Regions from separate parts of the Homo sapiens genome. Here region 1 is linked to region 2. A link means that fine-mapping ties the variant in region 2 to the plasma level of a protein whose gene starts in the linked region. Region 2 holds a variant in brackets. A gene starts in the other region. All regions are shown on their forward strands.

Region 1 (5,338 bases), not on the chromosome of region 2:
TAAAATCCAGTTTGGGATTTATCCAGGCCACATCTTCTATTTTCCCCTCTAATGCCTACCTTCTTTAAACTGTCCCCATCCCACTTCCCCCAGAAAGGATATTCAGTTTTTTATGGCACCTCTCCCCAAAAGCACATAGAAATAACATTTGGTTCTGTTCCCATTAGGGTTGGTTGAGAAAGGACTTTGAAGCTATGGAATAAAAGTCGCGCTAGCGCACTGCAGCTTCAATTCCTGGTCTCAAGCGAGCCTCCCGCCTCAACCTCCGGAGTAACTGGGACTACCGGCCCAAGCCACTACACCTGGCCAAGGAAGTAACCCTTAATTAATAGTTCATGATGTTATTTTCCTTTACAACTCGGGGTAACAAATACAAAATTTAATATAAGATGTGAGCATTTTAACTCCATTTTAAGAGAGGTGTCCAGTGTGGTTGGACTAAAGCCCCTTTCTCGTAAGCATCCACAATTCCTCATTCCTGCACATCTCCTCCCTTGGGACCATACATAAAAACTCAACTCCTCATCTTGGGCACCTGAAAATCTACTTTAACAGAGAAAGCGCTCTAGATGGCAGGTGTCCTTAGAGCTGGGAGCGAAGCCCAAGCAAGAACTAAAGAGGGTGGCTGACTCCACAAAGCCACCCCCACAACCCCCAGTTCGCGTTCCTCCACCTGGCAGGTCCTCTGGGGAACCGCCAGTAACGGGCGCGCGGGTACCGTCGCCGAGGCCGCCCGGAGCAGGGCAGGGTCCGCCGCCGGTCTGACTCCCAAACCCGCTTTTCTCCGGAGGTCCCCGCTCGCCAGGACCGCTCCGAGCGCTACCTGCGAAGGTAACTGCCAGGAGCAGCAGCGCCAAGCGCAGCACCGACAGCGCCATCCTCCTCCCGCGCCGGCTGTCTTGCCCCTGCGGTCTGTTACCTGCGCCACTCGCAGGGAGCGCTCGTGCGACGGGGCGCGGGGAGGGCGGGGGAAGGGGCGGGGCGAGAATGGGAGGAAAAGCAGCGGTAGGTGGCGAGGGAAGAGGGGCGGCGGGAAGAGGAGCGGCGGGAAGAGGAGCCGTGAAGGGTCGGGGGAGAACCGGAAAGGGCTGGGAAGGAGAAAGGTAGAAGGACGGGGGAGGGGGCCATGGGGAAGGAGGGGCGAGGGAGATAGAGGAAGGGGCAGTTGTTCCCCAACACCTTCCCCTCCCCCCAAGGAGACGAAGGGGAAGACCTCTCCCTCCGACATACAAGAACCTGTGACAGTCCTAGGGGGACCCTTGTGGAGCTCTTGGGAGCTCTGTCAATCAACACCTATTTCTTAAGCATGTACTAAGTCCCAGATAGTGTTTCGTTGCTGAAGACACAGCCCTGACCTCGACAAAGGAGGTCCTTGCTCTCAGGAAGCGTTCTGCCTTTCCCTCTTTTAATATATTTTTTAACTATTTGAGTTGACACATAATGATTGTACATATTTATGGGGGTACATAGTGATATTTGGATACATACAATGTGTAGTGATCAAAATAGGATAATTAGCATATTCATCACCTCAAACATTTATCATTACTTTGTGTTGAGAACATTCAAAATCCTCTCATCTAGCTACTTGAAAATACATAATAAATTATTATTATTATTTAAATTTCAGACAGGGTCTCGCTCTTTTACCCAGGCTGGAGTGCAGTGGCACGATCTCAGCTCACTGCAACCTCCACCTCCCAGGTTCCAGTGATCCTCCCACCTCAGCCTCCCTCCCAAGTAGCTGGGACCACAGATATATGCCACCATGCCAAGCTAATTTTTGCATTTTTTGTAGAGAGGGGTTCTCACCATGTTGCCCAGGCTACTCTCAAACTCCTGGGCTCAAGCAATCCGCCCACCTTGGCCTCCCAAAGTGCTGGGATTACAGGCTTGAGCCACCGTGCTCGACCTTTATAATATATTATTGTTAATTGTCGGCACCCTACAATGCTATGAAACACTAGCACTTATCCTTTCTACCTAGCTGTAATTTTGTATACTTTAACCAACCTCTCCCTATCCCCCTATCCTTCCCAGCCTCTAGTAACTACTGTTCTACTCATTACTTCTGTGAGAAATAATTTTTGCCAAAGAGGCTGAGCAAGTTAGTGCATTAAGGCCAGGCGTGGTGGCTCACGCCTCTAATCCCAGCACTTTGGGAGGCTGAGCCTGGTGGATCACTTGAGCTCAAGAGTTTGAGAGGAGCCTGGGCAACAGGGCAAAACCCCGTCTCTAAAAAAAGTACAAAAATTAGCCAGGTGTGGCCATTGAGCTGAGATTGAGCTACTGCGCTCCAGCCTCAGTGGCAAAATGAGACCATGTCAAAAAAATTTGGCCAGGCACGGTGGTTCATGCCCGTAATCCCAGCACTTTGCGAGGCTGAGGCAAGTAGATCACTTGAGGCCAGGAGTTTGAGACCAGCCTGGCCAACATGGCAAGACCCCATCTCTACTAAAAATACAAAAATTAGCTGTGCATGGTGGTGCGCACCTGTAGTCCCAGCTACCTGGGAGGCTGAGGCATGAGAATTGCTTAAACCCAAGAGGCAGAGGTTGCAGTGAGCCGAGATGGTGCCACTGCACTCCAGCCTGGGCGACAGAGTAAGACTCTGTCAAAAAAAAAAAAAAGTGCATTAGCAGATCCACTTTTTTTTTTTTCTGCTTCTTATGCCTGTGTGTCAAATGATTCTGTGACATGTTGCCTTATCAGTAAGGGTCCAGTCTGGAAAACACAAGGTTTACTAGGTATTTCACCAGAGATAATTTAGTATAAGGAATTGGCTAATCCAGTAGGGATAACTGAAAAAAGCAGAAAGGGAAAACGAGGTAACACAGAGATAAAGCCTTTAGGAAGTAGGCATCATGCCTCGATCTAGGGGAACAAACGGATTAGGTTGGGATTCTCAGAACTAGAAATTTGGAGGAGAGGTCCTGGAAAGCTGGGACTCAGACCCATGGGAAGGGGGTGTTGCTTGGATATGCAGGTGGCTCTAAGAGTGTGTGGAAAAGCTGAAGACTGGAGCCAGGTGCAGTGGCTCACACCTGTAATCCCAGCACTTTGGGAGGTTGAGGTGGGTGGGTCACTTGAGGTCGGGAGTTCGAGACCAGCCTGGCCAACATGGTGAAACCTTGTCTCTACTAAAAAATATAAAACTTAGCTGGACATGGTGCCATACTCCTGTAATCCCAGGTTCATGAGAATCTCTTGAACCTAGGAGGTGGAGGTTGTGGTGAGCGAAGCACACCACTGCACTCCAGCCTGGGCAACAGAGTGAAACTCTGTCTCAAAAAAAAAAAAAAAAATGCTGGAGACTGGAGCCAGCTGATTCTATCAGAGTGATGAAGAGTCATTGCTGTGGCACTGCTGAAAGAAACAGCCAGCAGGCAGGAGCCAGTCCCTTCTCCCTCCTCCTGCCTTCCGGTGTCCCCCTGACAGACCCTATGGGCATAACCTTCTGGAAGCCAGCTGAAAAAGCAGAAATGAGGTCTGCTGAGACCTGGCACCACATAGCAGAGTGTAGAAGGGGGTTGTAGAGCTGATGGAGAATCATCTTATGACTGGCATGTTCCCATGCCCACCCTTGACCTTAGCAACCTCAAAGGCTGGAACAAGAAGACACTGTGCAGTTTTTAACTCCACTTGGCACCACACATGGCTGAGTTCTGGCTGGAATCCTGTCTGAGGCCAAGGGGTAAATTTGAAATGAGTGTTAGTACTTCTCTAAGTCACATCACATTCAGTTCTTTGAATAACAGTCATGAAATGGTCATGGGTCATTTTGCTGAAGATTCTTATCAAGGATTGATAAAATATAATTTATATATAAAGCTTTTCTCAACTGTGCTGGATGTCTGTTACCAAATGACATGTGCACTTGCTTACAAACACCTTTGATGCTCTGGGAACACAAATCTGACCCAGACTCAGGGGCAATGCTCAGAGGTGTGTGAGTAGGAATTTCAGCTTCAAAAGAAAAGCCATTTACCCCTCAAGATAGATTTTTTATAAATTTATGTGTGTGGATACAGCTGCCTTTAGGTTATTTTGTTTCAAAGAGTTGACACTGACTGGCAGGGTGGCTCATGCCTGTAATCCCAGCACTTTGGGAGGCAGAGGCGGGCAGATTGTTTGAGCCCAGGAGTTGGAGACCAACCTGGGCAACATGACAAAACCCTGTCTCTAAAAAAATACAAAAATTAGCCTGGTGTGGTGGCGCGCACCTGTAGTCCCAGCTACTTAGGAGGCTGAGGTGGGAGGATCACCTGAGCCTGGGAGGTGGAGGCTGCAGTGAGCCATGATCACACCACTGCATTTCAGCCTGGGTGACAGAGCGAGACTCCGTCTCAAAAAAAAAAAAAAAATGTTGATAATTATACCTTAGAAATATTTTCTATCATGGTGCTTTTCACATGTTGTCTCAGCATTTGTGAGCCAAGAACAAGGGTCAAAAAACATTTTCTGTAAAGGGCCAGATAGTAAATACCATTGACTTCTTGTCACAACTAAACTCTGCCATTGCAGTGCAAAAGGAGACATAGACTATAACTCAATGAATGGGCATAACTGTATTCTTTTTTTTTTTTTTTTTGAGAGAAGATCTTGCTGTGTCACCCAGGCTGGAGTACAGTGGCGCAATCTCAGCTCACTGCAGCCTCAACCTCCTGGGCTCAAGCGATCCTCCCACCTCAGCCCCACAAGTAGCTAGGAATACAAGCATCCGCCACCACACCCAGCTAATATTCTTGTATTTTTTGTAGAGGTAGGTGATATGGTTTGGCTGTGTCCCCACTTAAATCTCAACTTGAATTCTATCTCCCGGATTTCCCAAGTGTTGCGGGAGGGACCCAGGGGGATAATTGAATCATGGGGGCCAGTCTTTCCCATGCCATTCTCATGATAGTGAATAAGTCCAGGAGATCTGATGGGTTTATCAGGAGTTTCCATTTTTGCTTCCTCCTCATTTTTTCTCTTGCTCCTGCCATGTAAGAAGGGCCTTTCACCTCCCACCATGATTGTGAGGCCTCCCCAGCCATGTGGAACTGTAAGTCCAATTAAACCCTTTTTTCTTCCCAGTCTCATGTATGTCTTTATCAGCAGCATGAAAATGGACTAATACAGTAAATTGGTACCAGGAGAGTGGGGCGTTGCTGAAAAGATACCAAAAATGTGGAAGTGAATTTGGAACTGGGTAACAGGCAGAAGTTGGAACAGTTTGGAGGGCTCAGAAGAAGACAGGAAAATGTGGGAAAGTTTGGAACTTCCTAGAGACTTGCTGAATGGCTTTGCCCAAAATGCTGATAGTGATAAGGAGAATAAGGTCCAGGCTGAGGTGGTC
Region 2 (5,378 bases):
TGACCTCCGCCTCCTGGGTTCAAGAGACTCTCCTGCCTCAGCCTCCCTGGTAGCTGGGATTACAGGTGTGAGCCACTGCACCCACCCAAGACAAGTGATTTTCATTGTAAATATTTGACTTTAGTGAAAGCGTCCAATTGACTGCCCTCTTACTGTTTTGAGGAATTCAGAAGTGGAGATTTCAGTTCAGCGGTTGAGGAGAATTGCGGCGAGACAAGCATGGAAAATCAGTGACATCTGATTGGCAGATGAGCTTATTTCAAAAGGAAGGGTGGCTTTGCATTTCTTGTGTTCTGTAGACTGCCATCATTGATGATCACTGTGAAAATTGACCAAGTGATGTGTTTACATTTACTGAAATGCGCTCTTTAATTTGTTGTAGATTAGGTCTTGCTGGAAGACAGAGAAAACTTGCCTTTCAGTATTGACACTGACTAGAGTGATGACTGCTTGTAGGTATGTCTGTGCCATTTCTCAGGGAAGTAAGATGTAAATTGAAGAAGCCTCACACGTAAAAGAAATGTATTAATGTATGTAGGAGCTGCAGTTCTTGTGGAAGACACTTGCTGAGTGAAGGAAATGAATCTTTGACTGAAGCCGTGCCTGTAGCCTTGGGGAGGCCCATCCCCCACCTGCCAGCGGTTTCCTGGTGTGGGTCCCTCTGCCCCGCCCTCCTTCCCATTGGCTTTCTCTCCTTGGCCTTTCCTGGAAGCCAGTTAGTAAACTTCCTATTTTCTTGAGTCAAAAAACATGAGCGCTACTCTTGGATGGGACATTTTTGTCTGTCCTACAATCTAGTAATGTCTAAGTAATGGTTAAGTTTTCTTGTTTCTGCATCTTTTTGACCCTCATTCTTTAGAGATGCTAAAATTCTTCGCATAAAGAAGAAGAAATTAAGGAACATAAATCTTAATACTTGAACTGTTGCCCTTCTGTCCAAGTACTTAACTATCTGTTCCCTTCCTCTGTGCCACGCTCCTCTGTTTGTTTGGCTGTCCAGCGATCAGCCATGGCGACACTAAAGGAGGAGGAGCCGGGGACTCCCAGGCTGGAGAGCACTGCCAGGACCCACCACTGGAAGCAGGATGGAGCTGACTACGGAACTGCACACTCAGTGGGCTGTTTCTGCTTATTTCATCTGTTCTATGCTTCCTCGTGCCAATTATAGTTTGACAGGGCCTTAAAATTACTTGGCTTTTTCCAAATGCTTCTATTTATAGAATCCCAAAGACCTCCACTTGCTTAAGTATACCTATCACTTACATTTTTGTGGTTTTGAGAAAGTACAGCAGTAGACTGGGGCGTCACCTCCAGGCCGTTTCTCATACTACAGGATATTTACTATTACTCCCAGGATCAGCAGAAGATTGCGTAGCTCTCAAATGTGTGTTCCTGCTTTTCTAATGGATATTTTAAATTCATTCAACAAGCACCTAGTAAGTGCCTGCTGTATCCCTACATTACACAGTTCAGCCTTTATCAAGCTTAGTGAGCAGTGAGCACTGAAACATTATTTTTTAATGTTTAAAAAGTTTCTAATATTAAAGTCAGAATATTAATACAATTAATATTAATATTAACTACAGAAAAGACAAACAGTAGAGAACAGCAAAAAAATAAAAAGGATCTCCTTTTTTCCCAGCCCAAATTCTCCTCTCTAAAAGTGTCCACAAGAAGGGGTGTTTATTCTTCCAACACATTTCACTTTTCTGTAAATATACATAAACTTAAAAAGAAAACCTCATGGAGTCATCTTGCACACACTTTCATGCAGTGCTCTTTGTAGCTAACAGTGAAGATTTACCTCGTTCTGCTCAGAGGCCTTGCTGTGGAGCTCCACTGCCATGTACCCAGTAGGGTTTGACATTTCATTAGCCATGCAACATGGATATGTATTGGGCAGCAGACTGTGTTTCGTGAACTGCAGTGATGTATACATCTTATAGATGCAAAGTATTTTGGGGTATATTATCCTAAGGGAAGATAAAGATGATATTAAGAACTGCTGTTTCACGGGGCCCTTACCTGTGACCCTCTTTGCTGAAGAATATTTAACCCCACACAGCACTTCAAAGAAGCTGTCTTGGAAGTCTGTCTCAGGAGCACCCT[GTCT/G]TCTTAATTCTCCAAGCGGATGCTCCATTTCAATTGCTTTGTGACTTCTTCTTCTTTGTTTTTTTAAATATTATGCTGCTTTAACAGTGGAGCTGAATTTTCTGGAAAATGCTTCTTGGCTGGGGCCACTACCTCCTTTCCTATCTTTACATCTATGTGTATGTTGACTTTTTAAAATTCTGAGTGATCCAGGGTATGACCTAGGGAATGAACTAGCTATGAAATACTCAGGGTTAGGAATCCTAGCACTTGTCTCAGGACTCTGAAAAGGAACGGCTTCCTCATTCCTTGTCTTGATAAAGTGGAATTGGCAAACTAGAATTTAGTTTGTACTCAGTGGACAGTGCTGTTGAAGATTTGAGGACTTGTTAAAGAGCACTGGGTCATATGGAAAAAATGTATGTGTCTCCCAGGTGCATTTCTTGGTTTATGTCTTGTTCTTGAGATTTTGTATATTTAGGAAAACCTCAAGCAGTAATTAATATCTCCTGGAACACTATAGAGAACCAAGTGACCGACTCATTTACAACTGAAACCTAGGAAGCCCCTGAGTCCTGAGCGAAAACAGGAGAGTTAGTCGCCCTACAGAAAACCCAGCTAGACTATTGGGTATGAACTAAAAAGAGACTGTGCCATGGTGAGAAAAATGTAAAATCCTACAGTGAAATGAGCAGCCCTTACAGTATTGTTACCACCAAGGGCAGGTAGGTATTAGTGTTTGAAAAAGCTGGTCTTTGAGCGAGGGCATAAATACAGCTAGCCCCAGGGGTGGAACAACTCTGGGAGTCTTGGGTACTCGCACCTCTTGGCTTTGTTGATGCTCCGCCAGGAAGGCCACTTGTGTGTGCGTGTCAGTTACTTTTTTAGTAACAATTCAGATCCAGTGTAAACTTCCGTTCATTGCTCTCCAGTCACATGCCCCCACTTCCCCACAGGTGAAAGTTTTTCTGAAAGTGTTGGGATTGGTTAAGGTCTTTATTTGTATTACGTATCTCCCCAAGTCCTCTGTGGCCAGCTGCATCTGTCTGAATGGTGCGTGAAGGCTCTCAGACCTTACACACCATTTTGTAAGTTATGTTTTACATGCCCCGTTTTTGAGACTGATCTCGATGCAGGTGGATCTCCTTGAGATCCTGATAGCCTGTTACAGGAATGAAGTAAAGGTCAGTTTTTTTTTGTATTGATTTTCACAGCTTTGAGGAACATGCATAAGAAATGTAGCTGAAGTAGAGGGGACGTGAGAGAAGGGCCAGGCCGGCAGGCCAACCCTCCTCCAATGGAAATTCCCGTGTTGCTTCAAACTGAGACAGATGGGACTTAACAGGCAATGGGGTCCACTTCCCCCTCTTCAGCATCCCCCGTACCCCACTTTCTGCTGAAAGAACTGCCAGCAGGTAGGACCCCAGAGGCCCCCAAATGAAAGCTTGAATTTCCCCTACTGGCTCTGCGTTTTGCTGAGATCTGTAGGAAAGGATGCTTCACAAACTGAGGTAGATAATGCTATGCTGTCGTTGGTATACATCATGAATTTTTATGTAAATTGCTCTGCAAAGCAAATTGATATGTTTGATAAATTTATGTTTTTAGGTAAATAAAAACTTTTAAAAATTTGTTATGGAATGTGTGTGTGTGTTATTAAACATGCATCCTGATAGCTTTTAAAGCACTTTCTCCTGCGGTTACGTTCCTTCAGAGAGGCTGCTGTACGTGTCTCTGAAATCAGATCTCCAAGTGTTCACCTTGTTAAAGAGACAAACGCTGGCCAAGTGCCGGGCTGCTCCTCCCACACAGAGGAGTGTCTGTGAAGAGTAATCATCCTGCTCTCCCGTTAGCATCTGCCTCCTCTTCCTTTATCTGTACTTTAAAAGGTTTAGGGCTTTCAAGGAAGTTGTTTTTAATGTTTTCTTTTGTTTATATTCGAAGCTCCTCTGATTTTGGTCATTGCTAAAAAGAAGGGATATAGGTTAACTAACACTCCAAATGTGAAAATCAAATGGAAAACTGGATAAAGAGAACAGGATTTAGATGGAACCCCTGGGGATCCGTACGTCTGCTGTTGACCTCAGCTCCAAACTCTTCCTCTCTCTGAGCAGCCAGGCAAGGGAGTCTCCTTTCTCAGCTTCATCGCTTCTACTGATTACATGGCTCAGCTCCTATGCACCTACTAACTTCCAGTCCAGCAGAAAAACTCAAAGAACCAGGCTGCAGCTGCTGGTGCTAAAATCCTTGCAGCTGAAGGTTACATAGAGCTGTCAGAAAAGTTTGTAGTTTGGATCTAGAACCCCCCCTAGAATAGTAGATTAGCATAATTTTGATTTTGCTAAATGGTAAAATTTCTTTTCTAAACCCTCACAAGTTCAGTTGAGAAACTTTCCTGAAAACAAAGATCAATAAATCTTAGCATAGTGATAAGACAAAGGAGACAGCAGCTCCAGTGTTTTAAAAGGGGACAAAAATGAGAGAAGGTAGTAAAATCTGTTCCCAGATTCCACTGCTGCCTTCGCTGTTCCCAGGAAGGAAGGATTTATGTCCTGATCTCAGGAGACAGGCTTCAGCAGAGTGCTTCCCTGTGAGTTCTGTGTTCCTAACTTAACAATTCTCAATATTTTGGGGAGAAATATTTTGGTTTCCTTCAGTCCCCCCTTGAAGCTTTACTTTCAGAAAGTTTCACATGTTAAAAGCTAAGTTGGTAGTTTTGGAGAGATTTGGGTTAGAAGTTTTAAGATAAGAGATTTGGCAAAGGAGGAGGAGAACATAGTTTGGAACAAGCAGAAAGGAACCAATTTGGGTACATTGTTCCATCTCTTATTGTATCAGTCTTTCAGTCCTGAAAATAGGTCAGTTCCGTTAAATCATTGCATCCCATTTCAGAGGTGGTGTAAGTGGGCTTCCATAAGAGTTACGTCTTCCATATGGTGTAGGCACACAGGTACTTTATCAGAGACATTTGTATGGAAATAAAAAGAAAACAAAGGTCTATGTTTCAAGCAGTCTATAAGCTAGTTTCTGGAGAGCAACCAGCTGAGATTTCTAGATTTGGGTTCAAATAATTTTAAGTTGGAGTGGACAGGCAGTGGCAATCTGACAGATTTTTCTGGATTATAGTTTGCATCAGACGTTCCAGTGAAGTTTTTGTCCATAAATAAATTGTGATGACTTCTCCAAAGTTTATATCAAGTTGTTCAGCTTTCATTTGCAGGGCTTCAGGAAAGGCACGGTTTTAATTCCTAGTGATTTCAAGTCAGAAAGGTGGGAGAAAGTTGGGA

Alleles and levels. Positions count from the first base shown, and alleles are read on the strand shown. Strength reflects both the effect of a copy and how common the allele is.
With allele GTCT in place of G in region 2, the plasma level of the protein whose gene starts at base 917 in region 1 is higher (weak association).

What was found. PIP is the chance, under the fine-mapping model, that this variant and not a neighbour inherited with it causes the effect. The UK Biobank Pharma Proteomics Project read protein levels with antibody pairs (Olink). The fine-mapping took linkage between variants from a reference panel, not from the people measured, so its PIPs are less certain.
Region 1: SPINK2 starts here. The variant in region 2 is fine-mapped to the plasma level of the SPINK2 protein (UK Biobank, PIP 0.99).

The regions. Positions count from the first base shown.
Region 1 is chr4:56,820,785-56,826,122 of GRCh38, forward strand. SPINK2 (serine peptidase inhibitor Kazal type 2) reads right to left here and starts at 917. Exons shown (of 4, transcript NM_001271718.2): 1 at 674-917. The coding sequence starts at 878. RefSeq lists a silencer at 759-1,018.
Region 2 is chr6:407,717-413,094 of GRCh38, forward strand. It overlaps IRF4 (interferon regulatory factor 4), which reads left to right. Exons shown (of 9, transcript NM_002460.4): 9 at 1-3,727. Among named protein-coding and RNA genes, the nearest start is that of IRF4, 19 kb to the left of the region's middle. RefSeq lists enhancers at 2,412-2,501, 2,922-3,071, 3,972-4,121, 4,492-4,671, 4,852-4,911 and 2 more. The variant GTCT/G (reference allele first, on the strand shown) is at 2,110.